Homo sapiens: one gene and its partners. The protein of the gene in region 1 interacts with the protein of each later gene in a biochemical or structural test. Each region holds a gene or a part of one and is shown in the gene's direction. Other genes may lie near its edges.

The links. Proteins that work in one complex are often made in the same cells at the same time.
Region 2: the proteins of SMURF2 (region 1) and CDH3 interact in a surface display test, tested with the Homo sapiens proteins (one large-scale study listed by IntAct).
Region 3: the proteins of SMURF2 (region 1) and TFAP2B interact in a surface display test, tested with the Homo sapiens proteins (one large-scale study listed by IntAct).
Region 4: the proteins of SMURF2 (region 1) and SCN1A interact in a surface display test, tested with the Homo sapiens proteins (one large-scale study listed by IntAct).

Annotation. Positions count from the first base shown.
Region 1 is NC_000017.11:64,547,298-64,552,147, reverse strand, and holds part of SMURF2 (E3 ubiquitin-protein ligase SMURF2), read left to right. Parts: intron 1-443; coding exon 444-564; intron 565-4,346; coding exon 4,347-4,548; intron 4,549-4,850. UniProt on the Homo sapiens protein: E3 ubiquitin-protein ligase which accepts ubiquitin from an E2 ubiquitin-conjugating enzyme in the form of a thioester and then directly transfers the ubiquitin to targeted substrates.
Region 2 is NC_000016.10:68,696,882-68,701,714, forward strand, and holds the end of CDH3 (cadherin-3 isoform 1 preproprotein), read left to right. Parts: intron 1-1,211; coding exon of another isoform or gene 1,212-1,286; exon of another isoform or gene 1,287-1,309; coding exon 1,310-1,519; 3' UTR 1,520-3,411; downstream 3,412-4,833. UniProt on the Homo sapiens protein: Cadherins are calcium-dependent cell adhesion proteins. They preferentially interact with themselves in a homophilic manner in connecting cells; cadherins may thus contribute to the sorting of heterogeneous cell types.
Region 3 is NC_000006.12:50,835,443-50,840,292, forward strand, and holds part of TFAP2B (transcription factor AP-2-beta), read left to right. Parts: intron 1-618; coding exon 619-838; intron 839-2,532; coding exon 2,533-2,651; intron 2,652-4,713; coding exon 4,714-4,850.
Region 4 is NC_000002.12:166,124,299-166,129,805, reverse strand, and holds the start of SCN1A (sodium channel protein type 1 subunit alpha), read left to right. Parts: upstream 1-1,785; 5' UTR 1,786-2,035; intron 2,036-2,795; 5' UTR 2,796-2,882; intron 2,883-5,507. UniProt on the Homo sapiens protein: Pore-forming subunit of Nav1.1, a voltage-gated sodium (Nav) channel that directly mediates the depolarizing phase of action potentials in excitable membranes.

The DNA of each region.
Region 1 (4,850 bases):
TCCCGTAGGCCTCCCTCAAATAGAAACAAAACACCCAACACATTCAAATTACATTTGCAAGTAAAATCAGAAAAATAAGTCATTTTTGAGTGAAAGAGCTCTTTATTCTAGTTATTGGCATGTATGCTGTAAGTTTAGAAAGAAATTTCATCAAGACTCAGCTCTAGTAGACGTCCTGTTTCCTGGGAGCTTCTCTGATTTGAAGGGTTGCTCTGCTGATGCTGCTTTTGTTAGTAGTTTACCACTTTTCATCAACATTGAACTGTGTCACACCTCAGGGTTCATTTATCCCCATTAGTCTGAGATTTATTGTTAGACTTGAGGCTAAACCGTTAATGTTAGATGCTTGTAAGATGCGGTGTTGCTAAAGTAGAGATTTATAATAATAATTACCAGATCTGAAAATACATGTGATTATACGAAATCCTGCCGAATGTTTACAGGCTCTATGTGAACTGGAGATTTTTACGAGGCATTGAGGCTCAATTCTTGGCTCTGCAGAAAGGATTTAATGAAGTAATTCCACAACATCTGCTGAAGACATTTGATGAGAAGGAGTTAGAGGTTAGTGCATTAGTATTATAACATCACTAGTGTAACAAGGAAGGATTGGGAATTATTTTGTTACTTAGTTTTAGAGGAAAGCATATTTCTGGTGCTTTCTAAGTTTCATGGTTCTATGCTTGAGAATTCTTATTCACAGGAAAAGTCTTTCATGCTTTTGAAGGCCTTTCATGCTTTGGAATTTCTGTGAGTGAACAATCTGTCTCTCTCTCTCTTTTTTTTTTTCTGAGACAGGGTCTCACTCTGTCACCCAGGCTGGGGTGCAGTGGTGCAATCATGGCTCACTGCAGCCTTGACCTCCTGGGCTCAAATGATCCTTCAGCCCCTCAAGTAGCTGAGACTACAAGCATGCACCAGCACCCCTGGCTAATTTTTTTGTTTTTTTTGGTAGAGACAGGGTTTTGCCATGTTTCCCAGGGTGGTCTCAAACTCCTGAGCTCAAGTGATCCGCCTGCCTTGGCCTCCCAAAGTGCTAGGATTATAGGCTTGAGCCACCATGCCCAGCTGTGAGCAGTCTCTCTTATATTGTGAAAATTTTTAATTTATTTTTCTATCCTGTACTTTCTTGTTTTAAACAGATTTCGTGACTTATATGTACATTCTTCCAATATATGTCTATTCCCTAACTTAGTGGTTACTGATTTAGTTAAGTAAAACCTCATTAATCTACCATTTTGAAATTTATTTGGGTAAGAGCCTACTCTGAATTAGTTTTACACTAAGCTTGCAAGAAAGCATTTGATAGACAAGATCATCGAGAAAATAACTAAAACACCTAGGATAAATTGAATCTAAATGTCTCTCTCTTTTTTTTTTTTTTTTTTTTGGAGACAGAGTTGCCCAGGCTGGAGGGCAGTGGCACTGCAACCTCCACCTCCTGGATTCAAGTGATTCTCCTGCCTCAGCCTCCCAAGTAGCTGGGACTACAGGCACCTGCCACCACGTCCAGCTAATTTTTGTATTTTTAGTAGAAACGGGGTTTCACCATGTTGGCCAGGCTGGCCTGGGACTCCTGACCTCAAATAATCCACCCACCTCGGCCTTCCACAGTGCTGGGATTACAGGTGTGAGCCACCGCACCTGGCCTCTAAATGTCTTTAGATTAACGGCCATACTAAACAGTGAATAGTTTTTTGTTTCCTTTTAAAGCTGGCCCTTAAACACCCCAGGTTTTGTAATTAAGACCTTAAACAAATGCATCTGAATTTCCTACTGAACAACTAAAAAACACGAGGTTTAATTCTATTAAAGGTCCCAAATTTATTTAGTAGTTAGGGATAACACAAATATTTGAAGTCTACTAATAATTTGAAACATGATTTTATTCAATGCCTTCAATGTCCTTTCTAAATAAATCTGTTAATAGACCTGTTAGCAAACAAATCTAAAAAGGTTGGTTTTACTTAATACTCTCCCCATTCCTTTTGTGATTGAATTGTTCATAGTGAAATAGCCAGAAGGAAGTAGTTAGAAGGAGAACATAGCAGGAATGCCGATAAGGTTGAAATATAATGCATTTTCATCTCTTTATACAATAAACGAGGATTTGGCCTTCTAACTGCCATTCCTCTGAAGAAAAGAATTTAGGAGGTGTCTTTTATGTCATTAAATACACCCATAATCCTTTTCGGATAACCTCCTCCCTGTTCAGTGTGGTGTTAATTCAGTGAACCCTGTAGAAGCTTTGTTGGAGATTTTATTTCAGAACCCCATAGAAGCCTTACTGGAGACTTTATTTGGTAGGGTTAGGATTTTTAATATAGTTTCTACTGCTAATGGGTCATGAAACTTTGTTTTTCTTCTCTTTTTTCTTTTTTTTATTTGTGGAGACAGAATCTCACTCTGTCACCCAGGCTGGAGTACAGTGGCACAATCTCCACTTACCGCAACCTCTGCCTCCCAGGTTTTCAAGCGATTCTCGTGCCTCAGCCTCCTGAGTAACTGGGACTTCAGGTGTGCACCACCATGCCTGGCTAATTTTTGTATTTTTAGTAGAGATGGGGTTTCACCATGTTGCCCAGGCCGGTCTTGAACTTTTTAGCTCAGGCAATCCACCTGCCTCTGCTTCCCAAATTGTTAGGATTACAGGCGTGAGCCACTGCACCAGGCCTGAATCATTAAACTTTTTATTTTTATTTTTTGAGATAGAGTCTCACTCTGTTGCCTAGGCTGGAGTGCAGTACCATGATCCTAGCTCACTGTTAACTCTTATGCTGAAGTGATCCTCCTACCTCAGTCTCCCCAGTAACTGGTACTACAGGTGTGCACCACCACGCCTGGCTAACATTATTTTGGCTTTTTTTTTTTTTTTTTTTTTTTTTGGAGACACAGTCTCACTTGTCCCCCAGGCTGATGGGATCTCAGCTCCCTACAACCTCTACTTCCTGGGTTCAAGCGATTCTCATGCCTTACCTGGGATTACAGGTGCCCGCCACCACGCCCGGCTACCTTTTTGTATTTTTAGTAGATACAGGGTTTCGCCATGTTGGCCAGGCTGGTCTTGAACTCCTGACCTCAAGTGATCTGCATGCCTCGTCCTCCCAAAGTGCTAGGATTACAGGCGTGAGCTACCACACCCTACCAATTTTTAAAGACAATATGTATAACATTTATTTTAGCATTGTATATATTAATCCTGGGTGTAATTCTATAAAATACAGGATTTGCAAGTTATGTTTTATAGTATACATGGAATTCACTGCTATAAACAAACATGTTAGATTAGTATGGTGAGTTAGTCTTGAACCCTAGGGAGACATATTAATGATAGTATAAAATGATTTGGATATAGTTCATCTGTGTGACCCTCCATCAGGATGTGTTTAGCAGAGGTCTGTATCAATGTGCTCATGTATTTTGTGCTTTAATATCAATTTAATATTATTAAGCAAATGTAGGCCAGGTGTAGTGGCTCACACCTATAATCCTAGCACTTTGGGAGGCTGAGGCAGGCGGATCACTTGAGGCCAGGAGTTGGAGACCAGCCTGGCCAACATGGCGGAATCTCATCTCTACTAAAAATACAAAAATTAGCTGGGCATTGTGGTGCATGCCTGTAATCCCAGCTACTTGGGAGGCTAAGGCAGGAGAATCACTTGAACCCGGGAGGCAGAGGTTGCAGTGAGCCTAGATCATGCCACTGCACTCCAGCCTAGGAGACAGAGCAAAATTCTGTCTTAAAAAAAAAAAATTATTAAGCAAATTGTATGACTCACTTATTCAACACCCATTTCTGAAGTTTCTGTGCATTATCGGTTGCTTCCCCAGGATGTAGTGAAATGGATGTTACTACCATATTACAGCAGAGGAATTGATTGAATTGCCCTCAATCAACAAAGCTAATAGGTATTGAAACTAGTAGATGATGCAGGTCCAAAGAAGGCACATATCTGTATTTACTCTTTGGGTCTCAATTTCTGTCCATTTTTTTTAAAGCTTTATAATTTTATTATGAACTTATGAAACATTCTCAATTGTTTACCTGGTCAAGTCTATCACAGCTGTGGTTCTCAGACCCTGGAGAGGGAGTTTGCAGTGAGTAGATATCTCTGGAGCTTTTTAAAATATAGATCCCAACTGTCACCCCAGGTGCACAGAATTAACATCTCTGAGCCTAGGACCTGGAATGTCAATTTGAAAAGCTTTTCAGATGATTCTGATGTGCATCTTTAATTAGGAACCACCAAATGACAGCCAGCAGTACAAACCTAAAGTTCTCTTTTGAGGAATTTTTGGTCTGGCTGTGGTTTCCACAGGTTCATTACTGTGTACTATTTTCACAGCTCATTATTTGTGGACTTGGAAAGATAGATGTTAATGACTGGAAGGTAAACACCCGGTTAAAACACTGTACACCAGACAGCAACATTGTCAAATGGTTCTGGAAAGCTGTGGAGTTTTTTGATGAAGAGCGACGAGCAAGATTGCTTCAGTTTGTGACAGGATCCTCTCGAGTGCCTCTGCAGGGCTTCAAAGCATTGCAAGGTAACAGCCTGAGGTGCAGGCAAGCTGGGCAGCGGGTGGGGGCGGGGCTGTCAGCGTGGGGTCTGTGGAGATATTTTGTAAACCATGTGCTTAGAGATTCTCTTTTTCACTTCTTATCTGTGACTCTCACATTGTGATACCTTCTTCTCCCTCCTTTCTTTTGTTCCCTTCCCAAGAGCCTTTTCTGCGGGCTTCTCTGATTGTAGTGAGTGCCGCATGCTAGAGACCGTACGTGGTGATGCTCTGCCTTTGTTTTCTGGTCACCTTACTTTTAATTCTGTTGCACATTCCTGTAGGGAAGT
Region 2 (4,833 bases), on another chromosome or scaffold:
CAGGAGATCTAGTCTTGTGTACAAACAACATGCACACAGCGCCTCAATATTTTTCCATGCCTCGACCTCACATGCCTCTTACATAGGCTTGAATGTCTTGTCGTGCGCCCCCCACACCTGGGCAACAAAGGGAGACTCCATCTCAAAAAAAAAAAAAAGGCCGGGCACAGTGGCTCATGCCTGTAATCCCACCAGCACTTTGGGAGGCTGAGGCGGGCAGATCACAAGGTCAAGAGATTGAGACTATCCTGGCCAACATGGTAAAACCCTGTCTCTACTAAAAATACAAAAAATTAGCTGGGCGTCCTGGTGGGCGCCTGTAGTCCCAGCTACTCAGGAGGCTGAGGCAGGAGAATCGCTTGAACCCAGGAGGTGGAGGTTGCAGTGAGCCGAGATCACATCATTGCACTCCAGCCTGGGCAACAAAGGGAGATTCCATCTTTAAAAAAAAAAAAATTAGGAATGATTTATTCATTTATTCAACACATATAGCAGTTGAATACTCTGGAGCCAGACTACCTGGGTTTGGATTATAGATCCCAGGTGATTGCACCTGGGGGGCAAAGTTTGGAGCCTCTGCTGTAGAAGACTTCAAGGATTGAACGAGCAGGCAGCTAGGACAGTGCCAGCACAGTGGTTCCCGACCCTGCCTGCGTGTTGGAATCACCTGGGCACCTTCAGAAACCACTGATGCCTCAGCTCACCTCCAAAGATTGTGATATAATTGAACTGGGTGTGGCCTGGGCTTCAGAATTTATAAAAGATTCTCCAGATAATTTAAGTTTCGGAACTACTGACCTAGCATGTAGCGCTTATTAGATAATGATAGCTATTGTTGCGAGGTGCTATTCTAATAACTGCTTTACAGGTATTTACTCATTTACTCATTCATCTGTTCCTTTAAAACTATACGGAGGCACATGTCCTCAGTACCTCCCGAGGCTGTGTCACAGGCATGCATCCTTTAAAAAAGGAAGAAAAAAACTATTGTCATTTTACAGACAAGGAAACAGGCATAGAGTGGTTAAGGGACTCGCCCAAGGCCACAAAGCTAGTGTGTGGTGTGAGTTCTGGCCCGGGCTGTCTGATTTCAGTCCTTGCCCTTACCCCCTGGCCTGTGTTGCACTGAGCACTTGCTGTCTGCTGGTCCCTGAGTGAATGAATTCTGCATGAATAACGCATTCTTTCATTTCTACCTCCAAAACCTTTAGGGGAGGGGAGAGAGGGGCTCACAGAGAGGAAATGGAGGCTTGCAGCTGGCAAGAGGCAGGACCCGCCGCTCCTAACTACCTGTTCTCTGTTGCCGCAGAACCTGAAGGCGGCTAACACAGACCCCACAGCCCCGCCCTACGACACCCTCTTGGTGTTCGACTATGAGGGCAGCGGCTCCGACGCCGCGTCCCTGAGCTCCCTCACCTCCTCCGCCTCCGACCAAGACCAAGATTACGATTATCTGAACGAGTGGGGCAGCCGCTTCAAGAAGCTGGCAGACATGTACGGTGGCGGGGAGGACGACTAGGCGGCCTGCCTGCAGGGCTGGGGACCAAACGTCAGGCCACAGAGCATCTCCAAGGGGTCTCAGTTCCCCCTTCAGCTGAGGACTTCGGAGCTTGTCAGGAAGTGGCCGTAGCAACTTGGCGGAGACAGGCTATGAGTCTGACGTTAGAGTGGTGGCTTCCTTAGCCTTTCAGGATGGAGGAATGTGGGCAGTTTGACTTCAGCACTGAAAACCTCTCCACCTGGGCCAGGGTTGCCTCAGAGGCCAAGTTTCCAGAAGCCTCTTACCTGCCGTAAAATGCTCAACCCTGTGTCCTGGGCCTGGGCCTGCTGTGACTGACCTACAGTGGACTTTCTCTCTGGAATGGAACCTTCTTAGGCCTCCTGGTGCAACTTAATTTTTTTTTTTAATGCTATCTTCAAAACGTTAGAGAAAGTTCTTCAAAAGTGCAGCCCAGAGCTGCTGGGCCCACTGGCCGTCCTGCATTTCTGGTTTCCAGACCCCAATGCCTCCCATTCGGATGGATCTCTGCGTTTTTATACTGAGTGTGCCTAGGTTGCCCCTTATTTTTTATTTTCCCTGTTGCGTTGCTATAGATGAAGGGTGAGGACAATCGTGTATATGTACTAGAACTTTTTTATTAAAGAAACTTTTCCCAGAGGTGCCTGGGGAGTGAACTGTTTTCTAAATAGAAGGTTTATTGGCATCTAACTCACATACCATACCATTCACTTGTTTAACGTTTACAATTCAATGGTTTTTAGAATTTTCAGAGTTCTGCAAAAAGAGTGGGCTCTGTTTACCCTGCTGGCTTCACCCAAGCTTCCTCTCAATGGCAGGGGATACTCAGGGTCAGCTTCCATGCCTAAGTGGGCTCAGGGAGGGGAGACTTGCCCTCCTTTGCAAAGTCAGTTGCTCCATGAGAGAGAACCATTAACCTCTTACCCCAAGGCTGAGCCCCTCCACAGCCCCAGCAAGGTCTCTTCTGGAACAGCGGCTGCCCTCCCTGCAGGACAGTGTGTGACGACTTCCTCTTCTATGCTGGAGGGGTCCCTGTTGAAAGGCAGGGGTTGGGGAACAGCCAGCTCTGCTACTTGCTAGCACATTTTTTTTTTTTTTTTTGAGACGGAGTCTCGTTCTGTCGCCCAGGCTGGAGTGCAGTGGTGTGATCTTGGCTCACTGCAAGCTCTGCCTCCTGGGTTCACGCCATTCTCCTGCCTCAGCCTCCCGAGTAGCTGGGACTACAGGTGCCTGCCACTATGCCCAGCTAATTTTTTTTGAGTGTGTGTGTTTTTTTAGTAGAGACGGGGTTTCACTGTGTTAGCCAGGATGTCTCGATCTCCTGACCTCGTGATCCGCCCACGTCGGCCTCCCAAAGTGCTAGGATTACAGGCTTGAGCCACCGCGCCCAGCGCTGGCACATCATTTAACCTCCAGTTGCCTCAGATTTTACATTTACAAAATGGGGAGTTTTTGTGGAGATTAAGTGAATTAATATCTGGCACATGGTCCATGCAATCTGTTAGTTGGTAACAGCTACCATTTATTCAGTACTTTTAAAGGCCAGACAGGACTTCGATTATTTCCTCTAAATCCTCACAATCACCCTCTGAGGGGACTTTCTCCTTTAAAGAATGGCCACATTGTATTTGTTTTTTTAAATGACATCTGGTCATCATCGAAATCAAGCAAAACAAAATTAAGAGAACCTACCCAAGATGTCAGTGAAATTGGAACATTCCTGACAATACCAGGGCATAAATGCAGGAATCAGGAATAGGCAGCAGTGATAGAACAATTCTGTTTGTGCCCTTGTTAACGTGAAGTTCAAAGTCATCTTTGCAATTAGCCAAAAGAATCTGAAGTGAAGCTGAGGAAATTGCTGATGTTGAAATAAACATTTCCTTCCATGAGGATGACTAATTCTGTAAAGCGTCTCTGCTCAAAGCACAGACCCTGAACCGGAGTTATCGGTGCCACCTGCTGAATCGGAACCTCTAGGCAGGGCCCTGCTGTGGGTTGACAAGCCCTCCGTGGGATGCTCCTGCACACTCAGGTTTGCTGCCAAGACTCTGAAGGATGAGGCCAAGGAGCCTGAAGCCTCAGACTTTGGATGGAGAAACCAAAAGGAAATGAAGTTGGGGCTGGGCACCATGGCTCACGCCTGTAATTCCAACACTTTAAGAGGCTGAGGTGGGTGGATCACTTGAGGTCAGGGGTTCGAGACCAGCCTGGCCTGATCCGCCCGCCTCGGCCTCCCAAAGTGCAGAGTTATAGGCGTGAGCCACCGTGCCCGGCCTACACACACATTTTTGTACTAAAAATACAAAAATTAGCTGGGTGTGGCGCCTATAATCCCAGCTACTTGGGAAACTGAGGCACAAGAATCTCATGAATCCGGGAGGTGGAGGTTGCAGTGAGCCGAGATCACGCCACTGCACTCCAGCCCAGGCGACAGAGTGAGACCCTATCTCAACAACAAAAGGGTATGAAGTCGGATGAGAAAGCTCACCTGTCCTTGGTCCATGGCACCCTCAGGACAAAGCCGCCTCCTGCCTCTCCCACTGAGCTGGGGCCTCAGATTCCCCTCTGCCAGGGCTGTCTTTGCTGACAGGGAGTGTGGGAGGATTGGGTGTCTCTGCTAGCAAACACCTGCTGCCCGTTATCTTCAACTCCCTTCAGAGAAGCCTGGATAAATCAGAAACTCTATCTTCAGCAGAGGCTAATCATGAAACCAAGCAGCCCCTGTTTAGGCTGGCCTTCCTCCCCTGAGATATTTGGAGGAAAAACAGCCTTTCCCAGCCTCAACTGGCCTCGGTGGATGGATGTAGAGTCCCCTGGCAATGGAACCAGTCACCAGCCCCCGAGAGGTTTAGAAAGAATCAGAGCCTGGGCTCTGTGATGGGGACAATATTAAGTCACTCTCTCACTCTGGGCCTGCTTCTCATCTGCAAAACAGAAGCTTAGGACTCTGATCCTTAGTGCCTGTAATAAGTAAAAACATTTGCATTGGTAAGACACCAGCGCTAACCACGCAGAGTGGACACTAACCAGAAACAACTGATGTGCTGGCCATGATGAGGACCATCGGTCCTTTGAATTTTGTGTTTCAACACTTTGGTGTGCCTCCTTCCAGGATCTGTTTCTCCTGTGCATTACACACAATTTTTTTTTTTTTTTTTTTGAGACAGAGTCTCACTCTCCCCCCGGGGCTAGAGTGCAGTGGCACGATCTCAGCTCACTGCAACCTCCACCTCCCAAGTTCAAGTGATTCTCCTGCCTCAGCCTCCCAAGTAGCTGGGATTACAGGCGCCTGCCACTATGCCCAGCTATTC
Region 3 (4,850 bases), on another chromosome or scaffold:
GCAGCTGTTTTGGGCCCAGCTCCCCAGCTCAATGGTATTATTTGTCTGTTCTTGGGCATAGTATCTGATGGGGTCCACCCTCCTTATCCTTTCTAGTGATGACCATAGATCTGGGTCCAATAGGAAAGGAGGAAGGGGTTTCCATTGGAATTACCATTTTATATCACCGCATGGTGATAATCACCGTCAGGCTTCAGCACCAAATGAGATAGGCATTATTATCCTCAGGAGACAGATAAGGAAACTGAGGAGGTTCAGACAGAGTCAGTCAGGTGTCTAAGGTCACAGAGTTAGCACACGATGGAATAAGATTTGCCTGGTTCCCAGCACAGTCCAAACTCTGGGTTGTTTGATTTCTTGATTTGGGTAGTGAGCAGGACTGTAGCAAATGACACTCATATGTCTACACACGAAGTAAGTTTCCAGAGGAGGTATGGCTTTGCCATCTGTTTGTTTACAGCTCTCTGAACGCACTGCAGCCCCACTGGAATAAACACTTCCTCCCTCAGCTTTCCACTTGGTGTCTGTCCTGTGGCCTCACACAGAGACACATTCTATCAGCCGGTCATCAGGATCGAAACTTGGTCACCTTTATGGCAATTTTTTCTCTCTTTCTAGTTCCAGTTCCTCCCAAATCGGTGACTTCTCTAATGATGAATAAAGACGGCTTCCTGGGAGGCATGTCTGTCAACACCGGCGAGGTGTTTTGCTCCGTCCCAGGCCGTTTGTCTCTGCTCAGTTCAACTTCGAAGTACAAAGTAACTGTGGGAGAAGTTCAGAGACGGCTGTCGCCCCCTGAATGCCTCAATGCATCTCTCCTCGGCGGAGTCCTCAGAAGGTAACCCCACCACGAAAAACAAAAACAAAAACAAAAAAACAAACAAAAACCCACCAGTTTTTATTTATTGGACAGTGAGGAGAAGGTTCCAGCAAAACCCAATCTGCAGTCTGACGCAGTTGCCTAGCAACCGGGTGGCCGGAGCATTGCTTTCGCGCAGCGCTTGGGAGGATCCGCGGCCGCCACCTGCTCGCCCACAAACTCTAGTGTCCTTGCATCCAGGCCTGCCCGCGCCGCGCAAGTCCTACCGCAGATTTTGCCGCCCTGGGAACCTTTCACTTTCCTGGCCCTGCGCCTGGCGCCTCTCTTCCTGTCACCCCTAGGACATCTCAGGGGGCATTCTCCAGCCTGAGTACAACGCGGAACTAACAGCCCCCCAGCCCCCCCACAAAAAACCCCATAAGTTTCATGAAGCAACTCTCTTCATACCTTCAGTGTACTCTTTCTCTTTTATTGCATGTTTTAAATGCAGTTGGCACCCAGTGAAATTGGTCTTTCAACCTGCTGATGCACTGTAACCCAGTTTGATAAACTCTTTTTCTAAATTTGTGACATCCCTCTTTCAATAACACCACCACCAATAATAGCAATAATATCACTTTAGAAGTATTTATAGGTATTCCTGGGAGCCATTCAGGTGCTTCACAGTATTCCACAGCCCAGAGACTGACTCCTCCTCGTGGAAATGTGAGAGAATGTGGATTTTATCTTAAGATGTAATGCCTCCCTTGAAGTCCCTGCCAATGCCTGAACACTTTGGCAGTGTCCCTGATATGAAAGTGACTTTGTCTGAGACAAAACTTTCCAAGATGACCCCTTCTGGGGGTTGACAGTCCTTTTCTTTCCTAAAAGTGACTGTATGAATAGTACAGCAAAAGAGATTACAGTAACTGAGGATTTTTACTTGTACTTTTGTCCATACTTTAGCACATACAAGGAGAATCTTGGGAGAAATTAAGGGTGTGACCCAGGAACTTTCTCATTTTGAATCCTCTTCCTCTGCCCTCCTTTGATTCAGTTTTCAAGTGAGTGCTTTGAGCCTCAGAGTGTGGAAGTTTTCAATCACCCCCTGAACATTAAGCCTGTATATATAAATTTGCAGAGATGAAGTAAAATAATCAATATAAAGTGCTTATCACATAACTACACTTCCAAAAGTGTTAGTTTTACTGTTATTATGATCATCACCATTTCGATTTCAGTCTGCCCTCTCCTTTTAACATAACACCATATACAGCAACTCTTGACCCCTTCCTCACAAAGCCCACCTGTTGCAGCAAGTGCGCTCTCCTCTCTAAGCCACCTGGCTCTTATCCTCTTTTCAGCAAGGTTGTGCTTGCCCAGTTTCTGCTCACCTCACTAACTCCATGACAAGGAAGGAACATGCACGTGCATGTGCAGCTTCTACCTTCTCTAGACCCATAACCTACACCTAATTATTCCCATCTGGTATCCTTTTTTTTTCTTTTCTCACAAGATAAAAAAAGAACACTCAGTTAAAAAAAATTCTCTGTATTGCAGAAATTAAGCAAACCTCAGCAAACTATCAGCAAATAACCAAAAGGAAGGGGGAAAAATGTGCTAACCTCAAGTTAAAACCTCTTCAAGCTCCACTGGGCTTTAGATTGCTAAGTCTAAACTTTGTTTCAGGAACACTCTAAGGTTAATCAGAATGTTAATTCTTGCAATTTCAGAGCCAAATCGAAAAATGGGGGGAGATCTTTGCGAGAAAGGCTAGAAAAAATCGGTTTGAATTTACCCGCGGGCAGGCGCAAAGCAGCAAATGTCACGTTACTCACCTCCCTGGTGGAAGGTAAGCAAGACGTGTGGCCATTTCACGAAGTGGCTGAGCTTAACTGTCGGCTGGAGGCTGACATTTTACACATTTCATGATTAACTGGAAATCGTTGTGATTGTTGTGCTCTTATGAGCTGGATGTCAAGCGGCTTCTTGAGAGAGGTTCAAAGGTCCTTTTACTTAGAGGAAGCCAGCAGTTGTAGACAGGGCAAGGGAAGTATTTGAGAGTTCCTGTGCTCTGAAAAGTGCTCAGGTCCAGCCTCCAAGACAAAGCAGGGGTCACTCCTGCTGTCACGTGCAGGACATCCTCTATGTGAACTCTTGCAAGAGTAACTCTTTAAGCAATAATTCATTCTATACCCCTTCACCTTGCCAGATTTGAATTGTCAGTAGTAGAAAACACATTGCATTCATGACCCCTAATGGTTATTTTAAAACTTTTGTCACTCCTAGGGCCAAATCTGCAGATTACCTGGGACATGTTGTTATTGAAATATTGATAGCTTAGTAAGGCCAATGATAGCTAGGGGAAGATTGGGGAGGAGGGGTGAAGAAATATGTAGGGGAGTCAGGTATTATCTTCAATGTAGATTCATCAATTGTGAATTATAGGGTGATAATTGCAATAAGCACCTTATAATTTGCTCATCAGTTTGGGTTTGGGGATGATATTTATGGTATGTAATAAACAAAATCATCTACACAGTCCAGAACAAGAGGATCTGCAGTTGAATTTGTGGGAAATAATATGAAATACAGTCAGATGGTCCTAATGGAGGAAGATGCAGAATTTTCTCTAGCATCTAGCTTGTAGGTCTTGTGTTTTAATTCCATTTGTATGGGTGTAATATTATGATGCTCCTGTAGAGAGTTGGTTTTAGAAGATGGAATATTAAAATATTTAGGCAGCAACCATTAATCATCACAGTTACAGGCCTTATACTTGGCCATTTTTAAGGCAAAGTTGCTTGGCCTGAACACCCTCCAGAGGCAGGAATCACTGAAATTTCCAGACCACACTTACTAGTGGTTGACTCTTAGCCTGGAAGTTTCACATTTTACCCTTCAGGGAATTGCTAATATCATAGTCCTCATTTTGGAAAGCAATCAAGGTAACCTTAGCTCAAGACAGGGATTTCAGGGGAGAAGGGAGGAAACTGGAAACCCCACTAAAATTCCAATATTTGTTTGGCAGTTTTTGGTTTTGTGACTCCTTGTAAGCACCATGCCTGAAGTCTTTTGTTGTTATGATAATAATGATTAAAAGTAAGTCATCCTCCTTAAAAATAATGTAGCTATGGGGTATTTCAACATATCTGTTTTTCATGTATGGGATCTGTCCTTGAACCCCAAAAGGCTGTGTTTAAAGGGTAATAATGCTTTACTTGAAAGGGGCTTTCACATAAGCTGAGTAATACCTTAGATACTCCAGTTTTCTGTAGCTGCTGTGTCATCTTTGTGCAGTGAAAAGTCCTGAAGTAGGAGGATGATGACAGGAACCTCTGAAGGGGAGAAACCTGAAACTTGACTAGCAGGAAAAGTGACAAGGAGAATTATTATTTCATTGCAGATAGAAATACTCTTTCCATATACATTTTACATATAGTGTTTAATATATGTGGACATATATACACATGGGCTTGTTTTTATATATTTGTTGGAATACAGTTGTAGCAAGATGATGGTCACTTTTAAATTTTATTTAAAGCAAGTGTGACAGATGCTTTAAAAAGAAAGAGGAATCTGGCTTAAATGTCCAGCCAAATGTCCAAATTCAATTATAAGGTGGCTCTTGACAAAAAGATTAGGGTGTAGGAGACCCCGTAGCTATTCAGGGGATGTCTAGCTAGGAGTTGGCTCAGGGAGAGGCAGGAAAAAGAGACAGGAGCAAAGTTGGTCCCACCAATTTTAATTATAGCTTGAGAATCATTTTTCCTTTAGGCATCTCTCACCTTTGCTTTTGGCTCCAACAGCTGGCCTTCTCTGGAAATACTAACAAAGCTGACAAGGGAATGTCTCCGCCCTGGGATATTTAGGGCCTGGGTGCTGATTATTACCTTTACTGCTGTCTTTTTCAGGAGAAGCTGTTCACTTAGCTAGGGATTTTGGGTACATTTGCGAAACGGAGTTTCCCGCCAAAGCCGTCTCTGAGTATTTGAACCGGCAGCACACAGACCCGAGTGACCTGCACTCCCGAAAGAATATGCTGTTGGCC
Region 4 (5,507 bases), on another chromosome or scaffold:
ATTGGCACCTATAATATGCAATTAGAATTCATTAAAACATGTGGCCAGGTATGTTCTTATTTTGTGTTTTTACATATCTAATCTCTAAGTACTATTCATATGGAATGTATTATTCTAAAAAAATTGCCTGTTAGTTCATGCAGTTCCCACTCTCTTTTCATCTCTAACATCTTGGCAATCGTTTACCAGTTGTTGATCACCTGTCTCCTCATCTTCTTTCAACTTTGCCCTGACTCTACCAGATACTGGGCAACATCATTTCCCAGACATTGAGTAACTTCAAATGAATGTGTTCATGCTACTCCAACTGGCTTTTGGGAAAGCACTGGATAGAGTTTTTGAGCTGGAACAGGAAATTATCTTACTTAATTTCTTTCTTTTATAGATAAAAAGATGGATCCACAAGATGGACCCATTGGTCCATAATTAAGGGCTAGTAAATGTTTTGTAAACATAGAAATCAAAATTACTTTTCTGTGATTCTAGAACAGGAAAAAATGGTGAACTTTTAGGTATGTTGCAAAGAACAGTGGATTATTCTTTGGGCTCTTGGGACCAACAGCCTTAGTTTTATTGCTTTGCAAGCTATGTGGTCTTGAATAAACCTCAGTAAGGCTCAGAAAGCTTCAGTGTTCTCAAGTATAAATAGGAATAATTATAATATAATAACATTAATAGTATTTATCTCACCATCCTGTAATAAGGAAGAGAAGGATTAAATATTGAAGGTTATATTGATAAATGATAAAACACATGCAATGATTGTAATAAGTGTGTTAGATGGCAAAAGAAAAATAATGAGGATGAAATATTTACTTCCAATGACTAATCTACACATAATCGTGATTTTATGTATGACTGAATGTTTAAGGCTGATTCCATTTTAGAATACAATATATAACATAAAAAGCTCTACTCTCAGTTCCAAGAGTTATAATTAGTTTGGCATGGATTTTTATTGTCTTAGAAAAAACTGATATTCATGGTTTTTATAATTCTATCTTTGGGTAATAGGCAATTGGACTCTCTTTCTATATATATTTGCTTATTAAAATGTGTTATTATAATTAAGCTTTAGGCTGTGTCCACAAGATGGGAAAACATTGGAGTAAAATATAGTAAAACCATAGAAATTGAGAGTGGGTTGAAAGTCTTGTTTAATCTGTAATTACAGATGAAGATAGTAAGAATGTAAATGTCCATAGAAGACTTCAGTGGCTTTGTTAAAGGCATGTGTTCATCAGTGTTGAAGTAAAACTCACATTTTGTGACTCTGAGCTGTTCACTATAATATGAAACCTAATCCTAAAACACAATATTAAAACAGAAAAATGTGAAGCCATAGATCTGTAATAAAGGGCCACCTGATTGTTTCCTGGTGGAATAAAAAGACAGTTTTATTTATAAGATATATCATTTTTATAGATAACAATGATTCATATTAGGAATAAAGTAACAGTTTCAAACTAAAATAATGCTAAAGTTTTTCAAGTACTACTTGAAAATAGCTATATTTACTTTCAAACCTTTTCCTCTTTGAGTCATTAGGTTCATGATATTATATAGCAATAGGGAATGAAAGAGAAGCAAGGAGAAGCAATACTGGGAGATTACAGAGAAGAAAGGAAAAAAGGCTGAGAGAAAAGAGGTTGAGGAAGAAATCATAAATCTGGATTGTGAGAAAGTGTTTAATATTTAGCCACTAGATGGCGATGTAATGTAAGGTGCTGTCTTGACTTTTTTTTTTTTTTTTTGAAACAAGCTATTTGCTGATTTGTATTAGGTACCATAGAGTGAGGCGAGGATGAAGCCGAGAGGATACTGCAGAGGTCTCTGGTGCATGTGTGTATGTGTGCGTTTGTGTGTGTTTGTGTGTCTGTGTGTTCTGCCCCAGTGAGACTGCAGCCCTTGTAAATACTTTGACACCTTTTGCAAGAAGGAATCTGAACAATTGCAACTGAAGGCACATTGTTATCATCTCGTCTTTGGGTGATGCTGTTCCTCACTGCAGATGGATAATTTTCCTTTTAATCAGGTAAGCCATCTAATTGTTTCATCTTGATTTTAAGTTTATTCATTCCAGTTATTCCTTTGGAAAAAGAGTCCATGGAAATTCAGTTTGGGCAGAGCAGGAAGTCCATTTTTGTATGTGTATTCAGACCAACTGTCCCCCTCCTCCCTCTCCTCCTCTTCTCCTCCCCTCCCCTCCCCCCTCCTCTCTCAACCTTCCATGAACTGAAATCAGGTTTGTTTTGCAGTTCAGCATTTTGATAGAAGATGGGATTCTTTGGCCTGAAATAGCTTGGCATCTGGCCAGTTCTTGCCTTTGCTTGCCTTCATCCTATTCAAGGTCCCTTTTGATCCTGTTGAAGCCCCCTCCTTCACTGGTGCTTTGGAAGTGGACTAGCTGGCTGGGAATAGAGGTCATATTGTTCTTAAGGACGGAGCAAAAATTAGATCTCAGTTTTAACTCCACAGGAAGAAAGAAGGCAGCGGGGCTGCTGCTGGAGCCTAGCATTGCAGGGGTATTCAGCTTCCTGAGGCTGAGGCTGGGCTTTTGAGAAGAAATGCCTCATGCCTTGAACAAGGAAGGGGCAATGATTTCCGCCCCCCACCTCTGCCAACTCCTATTGAGCCACACTAAAAAAGAGCTTGAGCAGAGTGGTAAAGAGTCCCCTTTTCTATCCAATGCCAAATAGGAAACATTGACTTACTTTTACTTAGACAGAGGTCACAACCAGCAATGATACTGCAGATACTGCTCAGTTCCTAGTGTGAACCGTCTTGCTTTTCAGAACAGCATAAGAATTATTTCTGAGTGGAGGTGAGGCTTGTCCAAATGTCTTTGCTATCATGGATTTCCTGACTCCTACCTGTTTGAGGTATGTGTTTAAAGACCCGACCCACTTGCTGCATTTACTTCTCATTTCTTTTTGTTCTCTTTGATTACTCACTGGTGATTGTTAACAAATCGGTCTGGAGTGGTGGGTATGTGCTTTTCACCTGTCCAATGCAACAATTAAGTCAAGGCAGGGTATATTACTGTCAATATGTGCATGTGACTAAATATTTCTGAGTGCAGTAGCAAACTTGCAAATTGCCAATTGCTGTTGCTATCACACCTATAAAATGTGTCTTCTTCTTCTATGGATTTACAGGTTCACGTGGTATTTCTGATGCGCTAGTATAGTAACAGAACATATTTCTCCAAAAAGCACTTTAAATCATCCCAAGAGGATGTTGCCAGACAGAAATAGGAAAATTCCATGCTGAGGTTGGTGATTCCTGCTTTAGTTTCTCCTGCCCAGAGAAGTGGGTAGCTTACCTTTCCTATTTGCTGCAATACCTGGCACGCCAGGGTGATGCAACTGGGAGCTTCTGCACGTTCGCGGGGCATCTGACATTCTTCTTTCCCTCAGCTGTGCATTTCAGGAGAATGACTGTGGTGAAAAACTCTTTTAAAACTCTCTTTTATGATTGTTGCTTTTGTAATTGCAATGAAGCAATTACAAAATCACATCTCTCTTCTAGGAGGAGTTTTGCAATTTAGGCCTTCCTTCACAAAGCTCCTGGAAGAGATTTTTAGCTGGTGTCTATTTTAGGAACATAATGTGTAGACAGGAATGAATGGCCACAGAGATTTACGGGAAACCAATTTCTTGGAGAGGGTGAGGTAACATTATAAACCACTAGAACAGAGCACAAGTGGCTGGTTATATCACATGGACCCAGCAATGGAATTAGTTTTCATTAAACTCACTGTAACTCATTTGTGTGGCTGTTTTTCCTCCTTCCTTCACATTGTTTGTCTGTTTTGTTTCAAATATCTATATAGGAGGCCAGGATACCCAGAGTGTTCATACTGGTAACAATAACACATTGGATTTTGCTGCCAATACTAATAGACTTGGTTTACATGCCCCCTCTTGCTGGGAAATGTGCTGTCTGGAGAGTCATTTATTATGGTAATTTCTCTTTAAGACATGGCAGGAGGGATTGTCCATCTATGGGCTGGGGCAAGGCGGGGCACAATTGGAGGCCTAGTTAATTATACAGTATTCAAGAAGGCACTAAGGAGCTCAGTCAGGATTCTGTTGTACCAACCAGAGATACCAGGGGCAACCAGACCGACTAGATACCCAAAGTAAACTCTATCACCACCAACAGAGGAATCCAGTAAGAAACATTCTAGTTCCTTGTATAGAGGGTACTATCAGGGAATCCAGACAATCAGAGAGGGTAAACACAAGAGCACCTCATCTGGGAATTGCTGACGAAGAAGAGAAAATCTGGGGCTTGCTTGGTGTTACCTCTAGGACGTCACCAACCAGGCATTTCTCAAGGGTTTATGTCGGTGTGAGCCTGACAGTGACACACAAAAGCATCCCTCCAAAATTTAGCCTGGGGACCTTGAAAGGTATTGCTTTCTCCCTGGGCAGTTGGAGAGGCTGAACCTACTATTTTCTCCCTGTACTCGCCAAAGGGCACAAAGCCTACTCTCTTCCAGCTACCTCAGAATGGGGAGGGTGGGAGAAACAGATCCCAGAGAAGGATGGGAGAGAATCAGCAATTGAAGGTCCTGTATAGTCACCCTCAGGGTCAATGGGGCTGTGCTCCGTGAGGTTATCACTTCCTTTTTAAATTCTAATTAGTGAATGAAGCATGTTCCACCGCTCAATTGAGATTGCATTAGTTTAGGGTAGGGTGGGAAGAAATTTATTCTCATTGCACTTGTGATCAGAAAAATAAGTTGTGACAGAATTCCCCAAGCTGCCCCAAAGTTTGCTTTTCCAACTTTTAAATTTTGTCCACATTCCTAGATTTCCATTTATTAATTGTTTTATTTATCAAAAACATATAGCATTTACTCTGTGCCAGCCACTATCCTAAGCAGTACTTTGCAAATATGATCTCATTTAATCCTATGAGGTAGATACTATTGTTAATTTTACAGGTGACAAAACCAAGGCACAGTGAGGTTCAATTAACTTGCTGGGTTATACAGTTAGTAAGTGGCAGAATCCAAGCAGTCCAGCCACACCGTGGCCATGGCGTCTGTGTTCTTGATGTTTGCTCATCATCCATGTGATGGTAGAGCTACAGCTTAGCCAAGAGACTCAGGACTGAAGTTGGGTGCAGTCGTACATGTGAGCTGTAATTCATCTGCTTTCTGACATGCCAAAATTCCAAAAACAGTTTGGTTTAGAATGATTACCCAAATCCACTCCATTTGTTTGTTTGTTTGTTTGTTGTTTTTTTGAGACAGAGTCTCACTCTGTCACCCAGGCTGCAGTGCAGTGGCACGTTCTTGGCTCACTGCAATTTCTGCCTCCCGGGTTGAAGTGATTCTCCTGCCTCAGCCTCCCCAGTAGCTGGGACTACAGGCGAGTGTCACCATGCCTGGCTAATTTTTGTATTTTGTAGAGATGGGGTTTCACTATGTTGGCCCGGCTAGTCTCGATCTCCTGACCTCAAGTGATCTGCCTGCCTCAGCCTCCCAAAGTGCT